7 linked regions of the Homo sapiens genome follow. The protein of the gene in region 1 purifies or fractionates together with the protein of each later gene. This does not show direct contact. Each region holds a gene or a part of one and is shown in the gene's direction. Other genes may lie near its edges.

Evidence for each region.
Region 2: the proteins of SLC16A10 (region 1) and NCR3LG1 purify together in Homo sapiens (affinity purification with mass spectrometry; one large-scale study listed by BioGRID and IntAct). This does not show direct contact.
Region 3: the proteins of SLC16A10 (region 1) and PLD1 purify together in Homo sapiens (affinity purification with mass spectrometry; one large-scale study listed by BioGRID and IntAct). This does not show direct contact.
Region 4: the proteins of SLC16A10 (region 1) and CEMIP2 purify together in Homo sapiens (affinity purification with mass spectrometry; one large-scale study listed by BioGRID and IntAct). This does not show direct contact.
Region 5: the proteins of SLC16A10 (region 1) and SLC9A1 purify together in Homo sapiens (affinity purification with mass spectrometry; one large-scale study listed by BioGRID and IntAct). This does not show direct contact.
Region 6: the proteins of SLC16A10 (region 1) and ZER1 purify together in Homo sapiens (affinity purification with mass spectrometry; one large-scale study listed by BioGRID and IntAct). This does not show direct contact.
Region 7: the proteins of SLC16A10 (region 1) and VANGL2 purify together in Homo sapiens (affinity purification with mass spectrometry; one large-scale study listed by BioGRID and IntAct). This does not show direct contact.

What each region holds. Positions count from the first base shown.
Region 1 is NC_000006.12:111,226,914-111,230,538, forward strand, and holds part of SLC16A10 (monocarboxylate transporter 10), read left to right. Parts: 3' UTR 1-3,625. UniProt on the Homo sapiens protein: Sodium- and proton-independent thyroid hormones and aromatic acids transporter.
Region 2 is NC_000011.10:17,358,250-17,361,874, forward strand, and holds part of NCR3LG1 (natural cytotoxicity triggering receptor 3 ligand 1 precursor), read left to right. Parts: intron 1-3,625. UniProt on the Homo sapiens protein: Triggers NCR3-dependent natural killer cell activation.
Region 3 is NC_000003.12:171,602,080-171,604,494, reverse strand, and holds part of PLD1 (phospholipase D1), read left to right. Parts: intron 1-1,192; coding exon 1,193-1,417; 3' UTR 1,418-2,415. UniProt on the Homo sapiens protein: Function as phospholipase selective for phosphatidylcholine. Implicated as a critical step in numerous cellular pathways, including signal transduction, membrane trafficking, and the regulation of mitosis.
Region 4 is NC_000009.12:71,744,395-71,748,019, reverse strand, and holds part of CEMIP2 (cell surface hyaluronidase CEMIP2), read left to right. Parts: intron 1-1,424; exon of another isoform or gene 1,425-1,678; coding exon 1,679-1,819; intron 1,820-2,396; exon of another isoform or gene 2,397-2,440; coding exon 2,441-3,002; intron 3,003-3,625. UniProt on the Homo sapiens protein: Cell surface hyaluronidase that mediates the initial cleavage of extracellular high-molecular-weight hyaluronan into intermediate-size hyaluronan of approximately 10-5 kDa fragments.
Region 5 is NC_000001.11:27,100,641-27,103,173, reverse strand, and holds part of SLC9A1 (sodium/hydrogen exchanger 1), read left to right. Parts: intron 1-430; coding exon 431-501; intron 502-615; coding exon 616-789; intron 790-1,043; coding exon 1,044-1,158; intron 1,159-1,347; coding exon 1,348-1,449; intron 1,450-1,898; coding exon 1,899-1,971; intron 1,972-2,529; coding exon 2,530-2,533. UniProt on the Homo sapiens protein: Electroneutral Na(+) /H(+) antiporter that extrudes Na(+) in exchange for external protons driven by the inward sodium ion chemical gradient, protecting cells from acidification that occurs from metabolism.
Region 6 is NC_000009.12:128,761,814-128,765,438, reverse strand, and holds part of ZER1 (protein zer-1 homolog), read left to right. Parts: intron 1-3,625. UniProt on the Homo sapiens protein: Serves as substrate adapter subunit in the E3 ubiquitin ligase complex ZYG11B-CUL2-Elongin BC. Acts to target substrates bearing N-terminal degrons for proteasomal degradation with the first four residues of substrates being the key recognition elements.
Region 7 is NC_000001.11:160,420,959-160,424,583, forward strand, and holds part of VANGL2 (vang-like protein 2), read left to right. Parts: intron 1-93; coding exon 94-229; intron 230-3,093; coding exon 3,094-3,325; intron 3,326-3,625. UniProt on the Homo sapiens protein: Involved in the control of early morphogenesis and patterning of both axial midline structures and the development of neural plate. Plays a role in the regulation of planar cell polarity, particularly in the orientation of stereociliary bundles in the cochlea.

The sequences.
Region 1 (3,625 bases):
CAGAGCCCAGGGTTCAAGACTCAGCCTGGGCAACATAGTGAGATTTCGTCTCTACAAAAAAAATTTAGCCAGCTTGGTGGCACATGCCTGTAGTCCCAGCTACTCAGGAGGCTGAGGCAAGAGGATTGCTTGAGCATAGCAGGTCAAGTCTGCAGTGAGCTGTGGTTGCACCACTGCACTCCAGCCTGGGTGACAAAATGAGACCTTGTCTACAAAAAGGAAAAAAAAATTTGTTCTGCTCTACTATACATGCTGACTTTTGTTGATAGCTTGGTCTAAAAAGACTGTCTAGAGCTGAATTTAAGAATGGTTCTGGAGCAAATAATAACAAGGTAGACAAGCAGGCCCTGGGCTCACTATAATTTCATAGCCACGACCTGTTTATTATTAGTTGGCAGAGATTAATGCTTTGTGTTATAAATATACTATAGAACAATAGGTCACGATTCTCAAGAACAAAGCCGAATGCTCGCAGTTAAGTGTGAAGCTTGCATAAGTGTCGGAACCACAATTATGGACCCACCATCAATGTGCATTTTATCAGATGACTCCTCCTGAGACAGTAAAGACTCCTGGAAAATTCATGACATCTTTGAATCACTCAGAAAAATCTTGAAACTCAGGACGTAGTTTACTTAGCTTGCCTTTTTTAAAATTATCAAATTTTAAATCGTAAACTTTGTCTTCACTTCCACACGTTCAAGGACACCTCTTTTAAAGTTCAGTGTTCCATACTAAAGGGGTGTAATCTTGCTTTCTGGGGAAATAAAATTCCCCATGGTACTATATTCCTGACAGATATAAAATAACATGAGGCTACCTCATTTTTGAAATAGATTTCAATATTTTTATTAGTAAGTTGGAAAGACAGTAGGAACAAAATGAAACCTTTCTAAGTACTTGATGACACCCACTTGATCATGACAATTCATCTACCTCCGCTTTCCGTGTCCAGCTGAAAGCCCAGCTGAGTCAACTCCTGCTTCATCAGAAGGGAGCTAATGGTGATTCTGGGATTAAAAAGCAAGGGGGGTGCAAATTGTTAGTGGGGTCAAAATATCAGTAAAATTTCTTAAGTGCTTTGTTCTGATAAACGGATGTAAAAGTAACAAAAAAGGAATAACAACTAATATGGCCTGTGGATCTGACAAAGAAAAACCTGAAGAAATTCAGAATCTAGATACACTTAGATTCTAAATTAGACACACTCAGATTCTAATGAACACTTAGAATGCTTCGCCAGTGGCTTTTCAAGTTACACTGGAAGCTTGATTATGAAAAAGTTTTGTTTTCATTGGCAAGAGGGTAGATGATCAGTGATGACAGATTGTACAGCTGTGCCCAAACCTGACAACTTACACATTAAACTCCTGTAAGAGACACTCCTTCCTAGTAGAACAAGGACTGGGACAATGAATTTTTGACTCACTGGAGTTTTTTAAAATGCTGTTCTTGAGTGTGGCAATAGTGTAGGAGTTAACCCAGTCTACCCAAAGAAGTTGCTTTGCCTTTCAATATGAGTGCTATAAAAAGAGTATTTTGGAGTTCAATGTCCCTAAACATGTATGCGATAGGAACTACCAATATAAAATAACACTTAGAACTCAAATTAGATTGGTAATACTATTTTGGAGCCTGTGATGTATGACTTTTATTCTTTACTAGATATTTTTCAGTATCCGTCATTAGAAGAGTCAGTTTGTTAAATATTTTAAATGTGTAAACACAAAACCTTTCTACTGTGATCTTCCCTAATGAGTCAAAGTATCTTTCATAATTCAGTCTATATTGAAATGTTATTTCAGGAATGGAGGGTTTGTTATTAATAGTGCTGGGCCGGGCACGGTGACTCATGCCTGTAATCCCAGCACTTTGGGAGGCCGAGACAGGCGAATCACCTGAGGTCAGATGTTGGAGACCAGCCTGACCAACATGGAGAAACCCCATCTCTACCAAAAATACAAAATTAGCCGGGCGTGGTGGCTCCATGCTGTAATCCCAGCTACTCGGGAGGCTGAGGCAGGAGAATTGCTTGAACCCAGGAGGTGGAGGTTGCAGTGAGCCAAGATTGCACCATAGCACTCCAGCCTGGGCAACAAGAGCAAAACTCTGTCTCAAAAAAAAAAAAAAAAAAAATAGTGCTGCATTTTGACCCTGGACTATGAACAGACTGTATAGTTGGTGCCTCTTTTTTTTCTACCAAAGATTATTAGATCAAGATTGGTGCTATACTTCATGTTCCTTTCAAAATTATTTTTCTTTTAAAAATATTAATATACAACACAATAGAAAATGTATACAGCCAGCAACGTTATGCATGTTGCATGTTATATACATGACTGAGGAAAAAAGCTCACCTATACAGTGATTATTGAGTTCCAGTATCTAGTTAGAGGTATGCAATTTTTGTTAACATATAAGACTTTAAATTACGAAACTCACAAGAAAATGATCACCAAATGAGAATGTTCTAATGAACACAACCTCCCAAGGTAATAATTTTAAAGAAAAAGTCCCTTGTCAATGTTTCTAGCACAAAGTGAGGGATTTAAATATATTCTGTAACTTTGAGGCAATGTGAAAAAGTTATATATAATAGCTTCCTATTGAGCTGGCTTATGTAGACATTTGGACATTTGAAACTATTTCGCAACTTTCAGGCTAAAATCAGAGTTTTGAGAGTCATCAATCTTAAAACATGGATAATGAGTTATTTGCACAGTTATATTTTTATAATTATTTGAAATTTATCACTGAAAGTATCATTGTTTGTCTTTCAGATTTAACATAAACAATAAGTACTGCGGCTGGGTCACTGTCAGCAAATCTCAGGTCTATGATTTATCAAGGGCTCTCAGCACCATCGTTGGTCTGATTGTGTAACACCTAAGTAAAATAACATATGGGTCTCCTTGGCCAGGCGCCGTGGCTCACACCTGTAATCCCAGCACTTTGGGAGGCCAAGGCAGGCGGATTGCTTGAGGCCAGGAGTTCGAGACATACGGGTCTCTTTAATGTTCTGTAGGTAGGATTCAGATGAATTGAGAATGACAGGTTTCTTTTTCTTTCTTTGTTTCTTTTTTTTTTTTTTTTTTGAGATGGAGTCTTGCTCTATTGCCAGGCTCCATATAGTGGCGCGATCTCAGCTCACTGCAACCTCCGCCTCCCGGGCTCAAGTGATTCTCGTGCCTCAGTCTTCTGAGTAGCTGGGACTACAGGTGCCCACTACCACACCGGCTAATTTTTGTATTTTTGGTAGAGATGGAGTTTCACCATGTTGGCCAGACTGGCCTTAAGTGATCCACCTGCCTCAGCCTCCCCAAGTGCTGGAATTACAGGCATGAGCCACCATGCCCGGCTAGAGAATGACAGGTTTCAGTTGAATTCTTCTCTTTTAAAAGACCCTGACTTAACTGTATTTTATGAGGATTTTATAAATGTAAATTAAGAAGACAATACACACTCTCATTTTCCTAATTAGAAAGACTATGCATTCACAATCCAGTACACTGGATTTGCTCTGGTAACTAATGATAACACTTTTCTACGTTAACATGAGTTATATTTGGCAGAGAGAATGGAAGCTTGCTAATCAGAAGTTACATTAGGGTGAGATTAAACATCA
Region 2 (3,625 bases), on another chromosome or scaffold:
TCCAGGATCCCGTCAGAATACCACATTGCATTTAATTGTTATATGTTCTTAGGCTCCTTTTTGCTGTGACAATTTCTTAGACCTTATTTTTGATGTCCTTGACAGTTTGGTGAGGGTATTGGTCAGGTATATTGCAGGATGTCACTAAGTTAGGATTTGTCTGCTGTTTTCCTCATAATTGGACTTGGGGTTATGGGTTTTTGGAGGAACATCGCAGAGGTAAACTGCCATTTTCATCACATCAAATCACATGACTTATGACTGTTGATGTTGACCTTGACCATCTAGTTGAAGTAGTGTTTGTCTGGTTTCTCTACTGAAAAGTTACTCTTCCTCCTATTTTCATACTGTACTCTTTGAAAGGAAGTCACTCTGTGCAGCCCACACTTAAGGTTGGGGGTTACTTATGTTCTTCCTCCTTGGAGGTGGAGTATCTACATAATTTTTTTAAGAATTCTTCTGCATGGGAGATTTATCTCTTTTCTCCCATTTATGACTTTATTCAATCATTGATATCAATAAGGACTCAAGGATATTTATTTTATACTTTGTGTTATAATGCAATACTACTTTATTTTTTCTCAAATTTTTCCAGCTTTGGCCACGGGGAGCTCATTCACTTGGCTCTTGTGTCACATTGACATACCCCAATCATTGTAAGATTTTGTTTTGTTTTATTATTTTATTTTTTGTTTTATTTAATTTTTGGCAAATTCATATCAAGAATTTTGTTTGATTTTAAGCACTTTTTACATTTTGGCACTATAAGATGCTCCAGACTCATCTTGTATATTTCCTCTCTTGTATATTTCCTGGTTCTAGTCCTAGAACCAACCAATACTCCAAGAAACCTTGGTTCCTTTTATTGGAAAGTGATCTTAGAAACCAAGACCTGGACAGTAAGTGTACTTTTTGCTGCTGAGGTATCATTGATTCTAGACCCTCTCAGCCAACAGAGCAAAGAAATACATGTATGCATACTAACCTCTGCATATACACATATCTACAAATATTTCTATGTGTAACCATCTGTACCTATATTACATTAAACATTTGTTCTTACTGATGTCTCCAACTTTAGTCCATCACCACATAGATCATTCTAGTTTCCTTCTCTTGCTCATCTGTAAACTCCCACTCCAACAGTGAGAAACCTGTACCCACCATCCTCTGTTTATTGAATTAATTATTAACCTGTACTCCGATAAGAAACAACTTTATCTACTAGAGTACAGTGCTTTTTGGCAATTCCTTTTTTTTTTTTTTTTGAGATTTTTTTTTTGAGACAGTCTTGCTCTGTTGCCCAGGCCGGAGTGCAGTGGTGTGACCTTGGCTTACTGCAACCTCCACCTCCCAGGTTTAAGCGATTCTCCTGCCTTAGCCTCCCAGGTAACTAGGATTACAGGTGCCCGCCACCACGCCTGGCTAATTTTTGTATTTTTAGTAGAGATGGGGTCTCACCATGTTGGCCAGGCTGGTCTTGAACTCCTGACCTCAGATGATCTGCCCACCTCAGCTTCCCAAAGTACTGGGATTACAGGCATGAACCACCATACCCAGCCCAGATTTTAGCCATTTTAATAAGTATATAGTGGTATCTCATTTGTTGTTTTAATTAGCAGTTCCCTAATGATATAATGTTGGACATCTTTTCATATTCTTACTTGCCATTCGTATGTCTTCTTTTTTTGTGTGTTCATTGGTTGTCCAGGCTGGAGTGCAGTGGTGTGATTACAGCTCACTTCCCAGGCTCAGGTGATTCTCCCAGGCTTCAGCCTCCCAAGTAGCTAGGACTACAGGTGCACATCACCATGCCTGGCTAATTTTTGTATTTTTTGTAGAGATAGGGTTTTGCTGTGTTGCCCAGGCTGGTCTTGAACTCCTGGGCTCAAATGATCTGCGTGTCTCGGCCTCCCAAAGTACTGGGAATTGTATGTCTTCTTTGATGAGATGTTTGTTCAGATTGTTTGCCTATTTTTTAACTGGGCTCATTTTTTAAATTGTTGTGTTTTAAGAGTCCTTTGTACATTCTGGATACAAGCCTTTATCAGATAGATGTCTCACAGATATTTTCTCACAGTCTGTGGCTTGTCTTTTCATTCTCTTAACAATGTCTTTTGTAGAGCAGAAGTTCTTAATTTTAAAAAGTCGAACTTACTACATTTTTCTTTCATGGATCATGCTCTTAACATTGTGTCCTAAAGCTCATCACCAAACCCAAGGCTACCTAGATTTTCTCCTGTGTTATCATCTAGAAGGTTTATAGTTTTACCATTGACATTTAGGTCTATGATGCAGTTTACTTTAATTTTTGTGAAAAGTGTAAGGTTTGTGTCTATATTCTATATGTATTTTTTTTTTTTTTGCATATGAACACCTAATTGTTCCAGCATCATTTGTTGAAAAGACTGTCCTTTCTCCATTGAATTGCCTTTGCTTCTTTGTCAAAGATCAGTTGAATATATTTGTGTGGGTCCATTTCTGGGCTTTCTATTCAGTTTCTTTTCTTTTTCTTTTTTTCTTTTAATACAGGCTGGAGTACAGTGACACAATCTTGGCTCACTGCAGCCTCTGCCTCCTGGGCCCTGGCAATCCTACCATCTCAGCTTTCCGAGTAGCTTGTGCTACAGGCTCGCGCCACCGCTCCCAGCCAATTTTTGTATTTTTGTAGAGATAGAGTTTCGCCGTGTAGCCCAGGCTGGTCTGGAACTTCTGAGCTCGAGTGATCTCCCCCGTCTCAGCCTCCCAAAGTGTTGGGATTATAGGTGTGAGCCACCACACCCTGCCCTATTCAGTTTCATTGATCTCCCTCTTCTTTCCCCAGTACCACACTATCTTGATTATTGTATTTTAGTAGTAAGTCTGGAAGTCAGGTAGTGTTAGTCCCTCATTTTTGTTGCCTTTCTTCAGTATAGTGTTAGCTATCTGGGTTTTTTCTTTCCATACAAATTTGAGAATCTGTTGATATCTGCAAAATGGCTTTCCGGGATTTTGACTGGGATTGCATTGAATCTAGAGATCAAGTTGGGAAAAATTGACATTTTTTTTTTTTTTTTGAGACAGAGTCTCGCTGTGTTGCCCAGGCTGGAGTGCAGTGGTACAATCTCAGCTCATTGCAACCTCTGCCTCCTGGGTTCAAGCAATTCTCCTACCTCAGCCTCCCGAGTAGCTGGGATTACGGGCATGCGCCACCACGCCTGGCTAATTTTTGTATTTTTAGTAGAGACGGGTCACCAAGTTGGCCAGGCTGGTCTCAAACACCTGACCTCAAATGATCCACCAGCTTCGGCCTCCCAAAGTGCTGGGATTACAGATGTGAGCCACCACACCTGGCCAATGGTATTATATTTTTAATTTCAAATTCCAGTTGCTCAATTGTTCATTCCTGTCAAATAATTGATTTTTGCTTATTAACTTTGTATCCTGCAACTTGCTTTAATCACTTATTCATTCTAGGGATTTTTTTGTTTTTGTTTTTGTTTTTGTTTTTGGCCAAGTCTTGAGATTTTTCTACATAAATCAGGCTGTCTGTTAAAAATACAGTTTTATTTCTTCCATTATTTTATTTTATTTTTTACAGAGGTGAGGTCTCACTATGTTGCCCAGGCTGGTTTTGAACTCCTGA
Region 3 (2,415 bases), on another chromosome or scaffold:
TCTTCTTCATGACTTCCAGGGACAGACGTGAACCTCTTTAAAAAAAAAAATTAGGGAAAATACGCAATTTTTCTCTTAGAGCCCCTTCCAGCAGAGAAACTTATTATTCTTAATGAAACATGTCTACTGTCTGTATAACCTTGTTTCTTTTCTTTCTTTCCTTTTTTTTTTTTTTTTAATTGACATGGAGTCTCACCCTGTTGCCCAGGCTGGAGTGCAGTGGCATGATCTCGGCTCACTGCAATTTCTACCTCCTGGGTTCAAGTGATTCCCCTGCCTCAGCCTCCCGAGTAGCTGGGCCTACAGGTGCCCACCAGCACACCCAGCTAATTTTTGTATTATGATACAGGCTGGTCTTGAACTCCTGACCTCAAGTGATCCGCCTGCCTTGGCCTCTCAAAGTGCTAGGATTACAGGCATGACCCAATGCGCCTGACCCCTGTATAACCTTATTTCATCCTTATTTCATGGACCGAAGGCCATGATCAAATAGGTCATGTGCATAGAGTCATTAAAATGTAATTTTACAAATGCAGTGCACAGCCTTATTTGGGTCCTGGATTTGGGGGAAAACATCTATAAAAGACATTTTGGGGATAACAGGATAAATCTGAATATGAAGCATAACTTAAATGACATTATATAATTAATTTTCTTAGGTGTGAGAATAGTGCTGTGATTATATAGGCACATGTCCTTATTCTTAAGACATACCTGCAGAGAAGTATTCAGGGGTGAAGTGTTATGATATCCAAAACTCATTTTCAACCAGCAAAGTAAGTGTTACATATTAACAATTGATAATGCTATGTAAAGGTACAGATATGAGCCTCTTTCAAGAAAAGTTAGGGAAAATATAATATGCAATATTCCTCTTAGACCAGAAGCTCCAGTGAAATTCAGGGATGATTATTATCCAAAAAAAATTAACCTTAATGTGGGGTAACATTAGTGTAATTTCTTGCCACTAACCATGATTTTTTAAATGGAAGCAGATCTATCTGTTTGTAGCAGATCTATCTATTGTTGGTTATAAGATAACCAACTCTTAAATCAGGTCTGTGCTGTAACATAAGACTAATAATATGTTTCATACAACAGAGGTCTTGTCTGTTGGAATAATTATTTTCCATAAAGGCCATGTGCTCGCTTTTAAACTTTTCACTCATTTTTCTATTTATGCTCTAATCAGGTTTTCCGGTGCCTTCCCAATGATGAAGTACACAATTTAATTCAGCTGAGAGACTTTATAAACAAGCCCGTATTAGCTAAGGAAGATCCCATTCGAGCTGAGGAGGAACTGAAGAAGATCCGTGGATTTTTGGTGCAATTCCCCTTTTATTTCTTGTCTGAAGAAAGCCTACTGCCTTCTGTTGGGACCAAAGAGGCCATAGTGCCCATGGAGGTTTGGACTTAAGAGATATTCATTGGCAGCTCAAAGACTTCCACCCTGGAGACCACACTGCACACAGTGACTTCCTGGGGATGTCATAGCCAAAGCCAGGCCTGACGCATTCTCGTATCCAACCCAAGGACCTTTTGGAATGACTGGGGAGGGCTGCAGTCACATTGATGTAAGGACTGTAAACATCAGCAAGACTTTATAATTCCTTCTGCCTAACTTGTAAAAAGGGGGCTGCATTCTTGTTGGTAGCATGTACTCTGTTGAGTAAAACACATATTCAAATTCCGTATACCAAAATCCATTTCCTTTGTAACAAGAATTTACCAGTAACTGTGATCTAGGTTGCCAAAAGTTGTCTGAATCTCCTTATTCTTCTCTGATCTTCATTTATGCAGCCAATGTCTAGCTGGACCTGCCCTCATCTTGCAGTTCATACAGGCACTGTTTGAGAGATTGTTTATTATTAGATGTTGTAATGCTGCTTCAAGATTCTTCATGGTTACATGGGATGCCCCTGCTCATCTGGTCCTGAAGTAGTAACATTCACCCAAATGAGGATATAGTCATTATTCCTTTTCAGTCACTGTACGAACACGGCAGACTTTAGCCTACACAGTAGACTGTGTTAGGCACTTCTGGTAACATTGACACTGTATCTTGACACCACTAAGCAACAGGAAGGAATAAATTCCAATATTGAGACAGAGATTTATTTCATTTTGCTCCCAAAGGCACTGACAACATGAGTCCTTGTGATTAGGCCCACCTGATCAAATGTAAAAACATGCATGGGATATTTGATTACGTAACAACCAGCTAAAACTGAGAGCACACAGCCTTCGGAAACCCCCAAGGTGTCGAGGAGGATCAGATCCAGATAAGAGAAGATGATTCCTTCTAGTCCTGTAAAATTTCCTGTCATCCTTAGCTGCTGGGTTGATTGAAATTTGATCTCTACATTTCAAAATCAAACTAGTGAATACAGTTTGTCTTTCAAGAGAATCAGAGGC
Region 4 (3,625 bases), on another chromosome or scaffold:
ATTATTAAGGCAAAACAAATTTAAGAGTTTTTTTGTTTCTTTGATGGGAAGAAAAGCTTAAAGATTGTTTTTAGTATAATAGTGATACTCATTGACTTATCAGAAGCATTAAATATCAACAGTTATGATACTGCTGTGAGAAAAACTAATTCCATGAAATAATTGCCAAGGATATAACTGGTGAGGCTAATTGTAGCTGTGGTTAATAAGAGAAAGCATAAACCTAGGGCATTGTGAGAGCTCAGAAACAGGAAGATGTTTGCATTAGTGTTATGCAAGTTCAAAATGAGGAATCATTTTTTTTTCTGTATAGAACAATATGTTTGTGTAGCACCCTACCTCTCTACTTTTTCTCTTGTTATTCCTAAACATGTACCTGCCACCTTAATGAAAGGAATTTCTTCCTATGGTTTTTCAAGCATATCTTGCTTATTCTTACCTTAGCTGAGTTTAAATAAAGCCACCTTGGAATTCTGAACAACCAAATGGACTACTTGGATCTCAAGGGATAATTGCATTACTAGTGTTCTCATGATCCTCTTATTTAAATACTGCCCATCCTTTGGTGTCCAGCTCTCAAGTCACCTGTTCATGAAGCTGCCTCAGTTACTCCAGCCCCATGCCTCCTTTGCCTGAGGTCTTTTGAACCTCGACTGACTACCATATTGTTCAGTGTTTCATTATTTCATACTTGGTGTTTTTTCCCTCCAAAGCTTGCATATAAACTCTGAGGAAATGTGAGCTGATTCTATGCTTTATAAATTTTAAAATATCTGGTACAGAGTGGATAAATTGATGCTCCACAAATACTTGGCCATAGGTTGATCAAAATTGAAGGCGTGATTTTTTTTCTCCCCTCTTCAAAATTATGGCGGACCTTAAAGTTTTCATACATTAAATAGCTATGGCTATTTTAATTAAATACTGTTATATTTTTGTTATTATAATACCTATTCAAGAGGCAAGTTCTAATTCCAGTAAAGGAACACTACAAGTCAATAATCTCATTTTCTAAAAGGGGAAACTTGCGTATCACTCAGCTTGCTAAGTAATCTTTGGTTTCTCTAACCTGTAATTTCCTCATCTCTGAAAATGAGAAGTTATGTCTTTAGCCACTTGCCTCTTTCATTTTGTTGGGAGAGTGCACATGGCTGAAGATAGTGATGTTTCTCAGTCTTGGAGAGAGGTGCTATCAGTACTTACTTCATCATTCACTGTGTGCAAGAAGGAACTTGTGAAGACCTGATCAATGTATTATTTAGCAATTTTCATTTTTGATTTACCAGGATGTTGTGAACACATTTCTTTTCTAAAACAGCTTTCTAGTGTGAATCCCAAGAGAATGTATAATTTTGCCTCTTACTATTGGTTTATTTCCAGAGTAGATGATTCAGGGAAACTTTTTTTTTTTTTTTTTTTTTTTGGTGAAGTTTGTCCTGAACTAGATGCTAGCAATTTAGTTTTGTGGTAAAACTTTAAAATGGAAATGTGATGACAAATTAAAGGGTAAGATGGTTCTCTGCTGGTGGGAAGGCGTGGGATTTCCATTCTAATGGCAGGAAATCAACATATGTTAGCACATTTTTTGCAGATCTGCAGTAAATAATGGTAGTGCTTAGATTCGGCTATATTATTCCTGCATTTTAATGGGTTGGATGGAATATCAATGTGTTTATAGAAAATTGCCCAGATCAAAATCCTCGTCTCAGGAATTGGGATCCAGGACAAGATTCTGCAAAGCAAGTTGTTATCAAGGAGGGAGATATGCTCCGTCTGACCTCAGACGCCACCGTGCATTCTATAGTCATTCAGGATGGAGGTAGGTAATGGTTCCTGCCTATGGGAACTGCAAGGTTGCTCTTTAATGTGGGGGATATTTGATGTTCCTTATGTAGAAGACTATTTTTAGGCAGAATAGGCTTTAGTTTGTGGTGTCACTCTAACCATGGAGATTTGGAAAGATCATGAGATAAAACCAGAGAATTTATCCAGAGATAAAAAACATAGAATTTAAGAGCTTAGACCTTAGGTATCACTCAAATCAAGACCCCTGATTTATAGACAAGGAAACAGTTCCAGAGAGGTGATCTCTCAGAGCTAAATTTTTGTCACAATTCTGAGAGTGATTTTGTCACAATTCTGAGAGTTAACATGAGTAAACATATACAAAAATAAGATTCAGATTTGTAGACTCTTAGATATTTTTAAGAGAAATGATTTAACCTCTAAAGTGAGTAGGTTGAAATTCACAGTCATGGGCATTGAGAGTATATTAAGATATGAACTCTTCATTTTTCCCTTTAGTTTTCTAAGCAGATTCTTAGCGAATTCTTTTTTCCGACCTAATTGCGGAAGTGTATTTAACTTAAGGTGAAATCTATTTCCTTGTATCTCAGAAAGATGATTTAGAAGTTGGCTTACAGGGTGGTGTTCCCTGCAGGACTGCTTGTATTTGGGGACAATAAAGATGGATCCAGAAATATTACTTTGAGGACTCATTACATCCTGATCCAGGATGGTGGGGCGCTTCATATTGGAGCAGAAAAATGCCGCTATAAATCCAAAGCGACAATTACCTTGTATGGCAAGTCAGATGAAGGTGAAAGTATGCCAACATTTGGCAAAAAGTTTATTGGTGTGGAAGCTGGCGGGACACTGGAGTTACATGGGGCACGGAAGGCATCGTGGACGTTGTTGGCAAGGACCCTGAATTCCTCAGGCTTGCCCTTTGGGTCCTATACCTTTGAAAAGGACTTTTCCCGGGGCCTCAATGTGAGGGTCATTGACCAAGACACGGCCAAAATTTTGGAAAGTGAGAGATTTGATACCCATGAATACCGCAATGAGAGCAGGCGGCTTCAGGAGTTTCTGAGATTCCAGGATCCAGGTCGGATTGTTGCCATAGCTGTCGGGGATTCAGCCGCTAAAAGTCTCTTACAAGGAACCATCCAGATGATCCAGGAACGGTTGGGAAGTGAACTGATCCAAGGACTGGGCTACAGGTAGGCATACCTTCTTCCCAGATCCCTATCAGAGTCCGTGTCTGTGTGAGAGGAGAGTGAGGGTGGGGAAAGGAGCCACAGCCACAGCATGACTCAGGCATCAGAAGGGCCACTCTACCATTTGCATGTCTGGTAGCTTTGAGACATGGGGCTGGAGGATAGGACACCACATACAAAAGCTATTTTCATTGGCTTTGGTTTACAAAGCCCTTTGTGAACTGGAGTGCCAGACTTGTGAAAAGTTGAGAGCAGAAGTGTGGTACTGAAAAACAGTCAGGCAGTTTAAGGACAATTTGCCTCTGAAGATACTTCTTCCTTTCGTTACCTTCTGAAGATCATATGAAACTCAGGCTAATTGAGGCAACTTAATGAGTTTAAAGGTTAGGGCAGAATTTCATGCTAAGTTCTAAACCTGTCTTAAAAGGCTGAGGGGGTAGAATATGCAGTTTTTCTTTTTCTTTTTCTTTTTTCGGACTCCTTTGCAGGCTGATTGGAATCTGCATGTTTGATTGGCACAGGTCTATGGACCCCTGGCATATATGAGGAAGGAAAAAGTTAAAGGGCTAGGAAATTCATCCAGATAGTAGAATTCATTTCTGCTATTTATGGTTCTTGTACCCTAT
Region 5 (2,533 bases), on another chromosome or scaffold:
ATAGGGAGCAGCTGGGCCTCAAGTCTCTGCCCCCCATCAGCCCCTTCTCCCTGTGCCAGTGCCCAGGGGCTCCCTCTGCCCCAGGAGGCCGCCAGGGTCTAGCCATAGGAAGGTGTGGTGTGAGCAGCTGGGAGCCTGAGGAGGGGGCATCATGCCATCTCTGCCTCCATTTGAAACCTATCCCAGGCATAGGTCCCAGGTGGGATTAGAGAAGGGGGCTCAGCCGGACACAGGCAAGGCTTCGAGATACCCAGAGTCAGGGCCGCTGGGTTCGATGAGTGGAGTGTGGGCGCCACCTCCTGGCTGCTCATGGAACCACAGGGCTGGACCCAGCAGGGCTGCAGCTACGGGAGGGAGTGGGGCTAGTCAGAGGTCTTGGTAGGGAAGGCGCCCCACAGCGAGGCTTGACTTGGCCCTGGGCCCCTTTCAGTTCCTGGACCACCTTCTGACAGGCATCGAAGACATCTGTGGCCACTACGGTCACCACCACTGGAAGGACAAGTAGGTGGCAGGCCTGGTGGGCAGGCAGGGAGGGGCAGGCAAGGGTCTCCTGGGCCTGGGCATCTCCCCACTCCTGGAAGCTGGCGCCATCCGTCTCCCTCCTCCTCCCACCAGGCTCAACCGGTTTAATAAGAAATATGTGAAGAAGTGTCTGATAGCTGGCGAGCGCTCCAAGGAGCCCCAGCTCATTGCCTTCTACCACAAGATGGAGATGAAGCAGGCCATCGAGCTGGTGGAGAGCGGGGGCATGGGCAAGATCCCCTCTGCCGTCTCCACCGTCTCCATGCAGTGAGTGCTGGGGCAACCAGGCAGCTTCTGCTCCCACACACCGGCCCCTCAAGCCCGGTTGGAGGTGGCCACCTGGGGGGCGGGGTCTTCTGTTGTCCTGTTGGGGCGGACAAGAGAGCTGTGGGCTCGCACCAAGGACCTGAGGCTTTGGCGCCCACCTGGGTCATCCCTAGGGTGACTTCCTTCTGGCCAAACCTGGGAGGCACCAGGATCCCAAGAATCTTGGGGACCTAACCGATGCCCTATTGCCCCAGGAACATCCACCCCAAGTCCCTGCCTTCCGAGCGCATCCTGCCAGCACTGTCCAAGGACAAGGAGGAGGAGATCCGCAAAATCCTGAGGAACAACTTGCAGAAGACCAGGCAGCGGGTGAGGGCCTGCTCCCCAGCCCGACCCCCAGGGTACAGGAGCCCTTCAGCCCCTCTCTACGGCAGCCCTGCCCTGCCCGTGCCCCTCGGCACCCACCCCAGGACTGGCCCGGCCTCCAGCACTGCCCCCACCCCTCCATGAGCAGAGCCTTCCGGGGCCCGCACTGCCCTGACGCTGTCCCTCCCACAGCTGCGGTCCTACAACAGACACACGCTGGTGGCAGACCCCTACGAGGAAGCCTGGAACCAGATGCTGCTCCGGAGGCAGAAGGCCCGGCAGCTGGAGCAGAAGGTAGCCTCTGCCTTCCTCTGGGAATCTGTATCCCACCCCACTCGCCCAAGCTCCGCCACAGCCTCTAAGGAAATGTACCCATTCTAGGAACAGGGTTTGGCTTTCGAGGGGCTTTTAGCAGTGTAAGGGCATGGAGAGCCATGAGTTCTAAGCAAGGGATTGGCGTGGGGTTGTGGGGCATGGCCTGGGTTAGGGCAGTGGCAGGGGACAGAGGAATGGGTGGATTTAAGGCTGAGCAGTGTAGGTGTATTCAGGGAGGCTGTGACAGGAGCCTGGGATGAGCCCTTAGGAGCTCCTGAGGGGCCAGTACGGGTGCCCACACAGGCACAAGGGAGGGGGAGCAAGCGCCCTGCATATACGAAAGGTGGGGTGTGCACTGGCCGGGTTCTGTCCTGAGGGGCTCCCTCTGCCCAGCTGCCTGTGCTCACCCCGTCTGTCCTCTCTGTCAGATCAACAACTACCTGACGGTGCCAGCCCACAAGCTGGACTCACCCACCATGTCTCGGGCCCGCATCGGCTCAGGTAAGGGCCTGGCGAGGGGCCTCAGGACTGGGCACTCTGAGCTGCCACCTCCTGAGGATGGGGCTCCACAGGAACAGTCCTCAGCCACTGGGAGGACAGGCCTGGCCCTCGCTGACCTCAGGATCCCCTCCCAAGCCATGAGCTGCTTCTACGTCAGGGGCCATCCCTAGGGAGAGAGACGTTCCGGGCGAGGACTGTGTGGGGAGCTGGGAGAGCCACGGTGCCTGGCAGGAAGGCAGGGTATCTGCCCCATCGAGACCCCCAACACGTGTGGGGAACGTGAGGGCAGGGCCCCAGGGCAGACTGACTCAGGGAGGAGCCCCAGGCCTTGGCCTGTGGAGGGACACCTCTGGGAGCCCCTGTCAAAGGAGAGGGCCACAGTCTGAGGAAGAGAAGCTGTGGGGTGGAAGGTCGCAGAGGCCTGCTTCTGAGGCCTGTTGGGACCGGGACGGCTGTGCTCATGAGAAGGCCTGAAGGAGGCACTGACGCGGCCGAGTGGCACGTGCTGGGCCGGGCTCCAGAGCGGAACCCAGCTTGTGCCTTGCTCTTGGTCCCCAGACCC
Region 6 (3,625 bases), on another chromosome or scaffold:
CAGGCAAGCTTCTGCTTAGTTGTGTATGCGTCAGTATCTTCATCAGAAAATGGGGTAATAATCTCTATCTTGCAGTACTAGAGTAAGGGAATTCCAGCCACAGCAAACCTTTGTTCTATTAAACACCAGGCATAAATTGGGCACCGAAGTCAGACACCAAGGATACAGGTGCGTGCGCGCTTGCGCACGTGTGTGTGTGTGTGTGTGTGTGTGTGTGTGTGTGTGTACATGTGCATGGATGCAGGCATGCAAGCAAGCATACAGCTTCTGTCCTCCCAGAGCTCACAGGCAGTAGGAGGGTGTCAGTTGACAAATTGTTATGTAAATGATTAATTAGTTGCAAGTACAGGGTACTAGGAAATATTTTGTCGGTTGAGTAAGAGACTCGAGGGAGTAAAGCCTGTAAGGAGCTTAGGACCACATCTGGAAGCAGCCAACATGGACGTGGTATGGCGGTGCCTTCTGCTGCTGCTGCTGCTGGTGCTGTTTTTCTCTCTCTTCTCTCCCACTTCCTTCATTCCCCAGGATGTCGAATGTTCATGATAGACCTAGTATTAGAGAACATGCAAGAAAAGGGATGGAGAAAGACACAGGGTTCTCCCAGTGTGGTGGTCGGTCATAACCAGAGCTCCCTCTGTCCTCAGTTGCTGGAATTCCAGATGGCCTGTGACTGCCCTGAGAATGACAATCCCTAAGGAATGGAGTAGGTAGAGTGGAGTAGGTAGAGATGGCTGCCTCTGGCAGGTGCCAGGCCCGCAGCTGGATGGGTCTCAGGGCATGGTAGCCCCGGGGCCCTTCAGTCTCTGTGCCAGGATGTAAGATGGCTGCTTCCTCTTCCAGCTCATTCCAGCCCTGAGTGGCAAGGTCAACACTGCTAAGGGGAGGCTAGCAGATGGCGCCATCTACCTGGCTTATGTTTTGGGGGCTTTTGGTGACCGTGACAACTGACGTGGTGGTGTTTCTTCCACTTGGGGAGCATGGTAAGGGCAGAGCAGCTGCCTAGGTAACTGGGCTCAGACCTGCAGAAAAGGCAAAACCCCAGTGGCTCTCCCTCATTCAGAGCCTCCGAGCCAAGAGGCATCATTTGCAGCCACTGGGCGCCCAGCAGTGTCCTGAGTGCAGCAAGCAGGGAGAATGCGAGAGTGTACTATACCTCCCAGGCCTCGTGCAGACCTCTGATGGCGAGTACTTTGTCATTCCTTCCACAGGCCTTTGTTGAAACCTCACCTTGTGGCAGGCCCCACATTGAGTGTTCAGTGCTTCCTTTGTTCATTTAGCAAATAGTCATGGACCTGGGCCCGTAGTGCCAACGTCCCATGCACCCCCTCTCCTTGCAGCTTAGGTACTTCTTTGCTTCCTCCCAAAGCGCCTTCCCCTTCTCTCCCCTCCACCAGAGTTAACTAGGACTTATCTTTTGGGTCCCAGCTGAAATGTCACTTCTTTTTTTTTTTTTGATGGAGTTTTGCTCTTATTGCCCAGGCTAGAGTGCAATGGTGTGATCTTGGCTCACTGCAACCTCCGCCTCCCGGGTTCAAGCAATTCTCCTGCCTCAGCCTCCCGAGTAGCTGGGATTACAGGCGTGCGCCACCAGCCCAGCTTATTTTTGTATTTTTAGTAGAGACGGAGTTTCACCATGTTGGCCAGGCTGGTCTCGAACTCCTGACCTCAGGTGATCCACCTACCTCAGTCTCCCAAAGTTTTGGGATTACAGGTGTGAGCCACTGCACCTGGCCTGAAATGTCACTTCTAAGGATACCTGCTCTGACTCCCCAGTCCAGGGCAAGTCCCCTGATTGGGCATCCAGAGCCCCAGGCCCCTTCTCCTGCAAGACACTGGTCCCAGTTACGCGACAGGCGCTTATGGGCCCTGTAGGTGGATCTGTCTCCCTCCGGAGCCAGTACGCTCCATGTGGTCAAGGACCTTGTCCGGCTCGCTCACCAAGGACCCCCAGTGCTCAGCAGGGACTGAGTGAGCAGGTCCAGGGAGGTGATACCAAACAAGACAGCCTGGTTTTGCCCTCATGGACCTGGCCATCCATCAAGGATGCTGAATCATCAAAGCCACATCGTACCAAGTGTTCATTGCTGTGGTAGATCGGGCCTGTGGGGGGACTCAGCAGGCACACCCTGGTGGGTTAAGCATGGCTTCCCAGAGGAAGTAACTTTGACACTGGGACCATAGGTATCAGCTACGTGAAAGGAGAGTTCAAAGATCATGTGGGCTGGAGTGGCCAGGAGATACTTCCTGGAGGAAGGACATGGAGTGTATTTGGGTAGGGGAGGGGAGAAGGCAGTATTTAAATTAGAAAGTGCAGTAATTAGTTGAATTTGGATGGTCCTGGTTGAAAGAGAACAGACTGGGCAAAGGTCTGAAGGTGACCTGTGCCGAGGGCCTTTTGCCAGGACAGTGAATGATGAGGCCAGGCTGGCTGGAGTAGGGGGGCAGTGGGGACCAAGTAGGCCAGAAAGCTGGCTGTAATTCCGGTGGGCTTGAAAAGAGTTGCTTTCCAAGAGTGGGGACTCTCTGCCAGCAGTGCTCCCTCTGGTTCCAGTTTCCCAGGCAAGAGAGGCTGCTGGGCTCTTAAAGATCTTGAAGCAAATGAAGGCAAAGGAAGGCCATGCCCGGGGCCCAGGCATCCTGGCTTTTGTGCCTTCCCTCGAGGGTGCCATGCTGCCAGTGGGACAGCTGACACAATGAGCCTTGTTGTGGGAGACCCAGGCCGGGGAGCACAGGCCCGGAGCTGGGAGCCAGGGCAGATGAGGTAGGAGAAGGTAATGATTATAACAACAACATAATAACGGTTGTCTTTATTGAGCAATGACTACATGCCAGACACCGTTCTAAGCCCTTTTGATATTATTCCATGGAATCTTCACACCGTGCTGGGGATGAGGTATTGTGCTGCTTCTATTTTAGAGGAAAAGTGACTGAGGCACAGAGAGGTGGAGACACTTGCCCAAGTTTGTCTCCTCGTGAGCAGCAAGGCTGAAATGTGAGCTATGCCTGCCTGAATCCACAGCCCATCCACACACAGTCCCCAGTAGACAGTGGTGCCACAGTTGAACTCAGAACTGGCTGATTCCAAAGCCCAGTGTGCCCTGTGGCTTCCCGCTGGATTTCCTGAGCAGTCTGGAAGGTTTACAAATGGGCACAGAGGGAGGCTCCCAGAAGCTGGGACAATGCTGGGCCCCAGAACTCCAGAACCCTCTAAGTCAGGGGTGTCCAATCTTTTAGCTTCCCTGGGCCACACTGGAAAAGGAACTGTCTTGGGCGACACGTAAAATACACCAACACTAACAACAGCAGATGAGCTAAAAAAAAAAAAAAGTCCATAAATGTCATAATGTTTTAAGAAAGTTTACAAATTTGTGTTGGGCTGCATTCAAAGCTGTCCTGGGCCACATGCAGCCCATGGACCACAGGTTGGACAAGCTTGCTCTAAGAGATGTGAGGGATTCCACGAGACCAGGTTCCAGTCTAGTTTACACAGCTCCCTCTGTTTGACCTTGAGTTTCCTCCTCTATAAGATGGGGTCAGCCGGGCGCGGTGGCTCACGCCTGTAATCCCAACATTTTGGGAGGCTGAGGCGGGCGGATCACAAGGTCAGGAGTTCGAGACCATCCTG
Region 7 (3,625 bases), on another chromosome or scaffold:
TGGACATGTCAGGCTGCTGTCTCCAGAGCTCCTGGAGTGGGAAGAGAGGCCACACTCTGATGTGACCATCTCCTCTATCCTGTTCCTGTGCAGAAAACAGCACCAACAACTCCACTGGCCAGTCTCGGGCTGTGATTGCAGCGGCAGCTCGGAGGCGGGACAACAGTCACAATGAGTACTACTATGAGGAGGCTGAGCATGAGCGAAGGGTGCGCAAGAGGAGGGCCAGGTGGGTCCCTGGGGGAGAAGAGGAGAGGAGGTGCTTGTTGGGTGAATGGGGAGAGGAAGACCAAGGAACTTCTGTAACTGCTGGAAATATAGGGCAATGATGACATGAGTTGGGGGTGTGTGCTTGTTTTCCGTTGCTGCCCTAACAGATTACCATAAACTTAGCAGCTGTGAAACAGCACACATTTATTATCTCCCAGTTCCATGGGTCAGGTGCAGGCTGGCTGGAGGCTGTGCTCAGGCCTCACAGGCTGAAATCAAGAGGACTCTCATCTGAGCCTATGCTTTCTCTTTCAAGCTCATTATTATGGGGAGAATTCAGTGCCTTGTCACATAGCCCCATAGGCAGTTTACATGATGGTAGTGCACTTTTTTTTCCAGCAGAAACAGGTCTCTGACCTCTGCCACCAGCTGGAGATAATGCTGATTTTAAAGAGCTCATGTGATGAGATCAGGCCCTAAAGGACAGTCTTCTTTTAAGGCCACTGACTTGGCACATTAATTACATCTGCAAAATGTACCAAGATTGTTGTCTAATGAGGGGATGGGAGTCTGGTAGAAGTGGAGGGTATCTTTGAATTCTGCCTGCCACAGTGGGGTAGGGACCCAATAAAGGGATGTGAGCTTTACCTGCAACAGCATGGACTCAGGCTAGACTAGCCTGCCTGCCAGTAGATCTTGAGAGGACTCACCAGATGGTGCTTTTGTTGCCTTCAAAAAATGACGTTTTATTGCCTATATTTTGGTAAATTCTTAAATGCCATCCTAGCTTCTCCCTTTCCCTATTCATATTATTAAGTGAATTTAGTCAACCCTGAAGAATCTTACTTGGTGCCTACTCTGCCGGGTTCCATCTTGGTCTGTCGGGAGTTCCCTGAGGGAGGAGCAGAGTGCCTCAGGACTTGACCACGCACCTGGCCTCCGCCCCATCTCCCACATGAACTCCAGGCTTCAAGGGCAAGAGGTAGCCCTTACCTTGTTCCTATTTGAGGCTGGCATCCCCTGTAGTAGAACAAAGATCACCAACTCCATTTCTGTGGCATTCCAACCTGTCTCTAATTGTCTTGGAAATGGCCTGAGACTTGGGAAGGAAACCAGTGATGTCCCTACCCCTTTATCTTCTGCCCTGACCAGGGTCATCCAATCTCCTGTACTGCCACCACCATTTTTGGCACATAGAGGACTCTTTCCTTTCCCCATTACCTTGCTTTTAACCAGGAGCAAACTTTTTCCTTTGTTTACCTGAGATAAAAGGATCTTTTCAAAGGGAATTTACTGAGAAATGTAGGGGAAGCAAGAGAATAAAGGAAGAAATGATAGACATACACAGATCCACACCTATATACCCAGAGTCCCATCTGAAATGACTCAGGTTCCTGGGTTCTGCATAGAAGGCCTCACTTTCTTTCTTTGTCCTGTCACTTCAGGCTGGTCCTGCTCTTAGGCCAGGGGGCTTTTATTTTGGTTTTTGGACTTGAAGTGCAGATAATTGCATTAATTGCTCTTTTCAGCTTCTAACATATTGTCATTATAGAGTTTTTCATGGTTCTTTATTCTGTTTCTTCTTTTCCTCCAGTTCCCACTTTCACTCCAGCGCCACATTTTAGGCATCCTGTTGAGTGTGTTTGACTTCCTTAAAAGCTATATGTATCCTTGTGCAAAGTTAGTGTTAGTGTAGTGATCTTTGTTGGTGTTGGTGTGTGTGTCTGTATGTATGCTTTTTTTTTTTTTTTTATTGAGATGGAGTCTTGCTCTGTCCCCCAGGCTGGAGTGCAGTGGCATGATCTCAGCTCACTGCAACCTCCGCCTCCTGGGTTCAAGTAATTTTCCTGCCTCAGCCTCCCCAGTAGCTGGGATTACAGATGCACACCAGCATGCCCAGCTAATTTTTGTATTTTTAGTAAAGATGGGGTTTTGCCATGTTGGCCAGGCTGGTCTTGAACTCCTGACCTCAGGTGATCCACCTGTCTCACCCTCCCAAAGTGCTGGGATTATAGGCATGAGCCACCACACCCGGCCATCTATATGCTTTTAATGTAAATGGATTTTTTTTTCCTGCTTCCTCCTTAACACTGTGTTTTTGAGATTCATCCAAGTTGTCTGTACATCTAGTTTGTTGCATCTTTTTGCTGCATAGTAGTTCATGGAATACTCCCAACATCCTATCCAATATTTGGTTTATAGTTACCTTCTTTCTTTTTTCCATTTTGATGGAAAAGTAATATTTTACTAACATTTTCATTTGCATCTCTCTAATTGCTAGCCAGTAACTACTTCGTATATCTTTTAGCCTTTCAGTCCTCTTGTGAATTTTCTGTTCACCTCCTTTGCCCTTTTTTCTCTAGGTTTCCTGTCTTTTTCTTCTTGATAGAAATTGTAGCAAATTCTTTGCATGTTCTAGATCTGAATCCCTTGTTGGTTTTAGATGTGTATATTTTCCCCAGCTCCATCAGATGTCAGTTAATGTTGCCCATGCTGTCATGGTTGAACAGAAATCTGTCATTTTGATGTAATCATATCTATTAATTGTTGAGCCAATGAAGTATGATTTGGGGGTCTTATTTAAGAAGGTTTTCCTTAAAGTTTGGTGGAATGCTTTGTCTTTCCTATAGCATAGTTCCTAGTTGTCTCTCTGGGTTTGACACTAGGTTTGCCCTCTGAGTCCCTGGGCTGGGCCCACTGAACTCTGTGGCTGTTTACTGTTCCCAGTGGCAGAAAGGCACTATTGCCTCTGGCTTTGTATTACTTTGGGTGAGCACAAAGGCCTGACCTCATTCAGGCTGCTGGAGTGTTGGAGCTAGGGGAGAGGGGTGGGGTGGGGGAAAGAGAGGTGGGCATCTGGCCCAGTCCCCTCCTGTCCCCTAGGCTTGTAGTGGCGGTGGAGGAGGCCTTCACTCACATTAAGCGGCTGCAGGAAGAGGAGCAGAAAAACCCCAGGGAGGTGATGGACCCCCGGGAGGCAGCCCAAGCCATCTTTGCATCCATGGCCCGTGCCATGCAGAAGTACCTTCGGACCACCAAGCAGCAGCCCTACCACACCATGGAGAGCATCCTGCAGCACCTTGAATTCTGCATCACGCATGACATGACGCCCAAGGTAGGCCTGCCCTGCTGCCAGCATCCTTCCTCCTTCCCCAGCTCCTCTTCTTTCCCACCTTCATTTTCCCTTATTCTCTCACTACTTTCCTCACTGTCCACCTCATTTCTCTCTCCTCACCACCTCCTTTTTATAATCTTCTCTCTCATTCCTATTCCACCTGCCCCATCTGTGTGGGGTGAAGTCTTTAGGTAGATGAGGAGAAGGGAGTCCTCAGGACCATTTTGGGGATGGCTGAGACTTATTTCTCATCTCTATGAGGGCTCCGGAATTACCAGATCCAAAGGCCCACTTTCACCT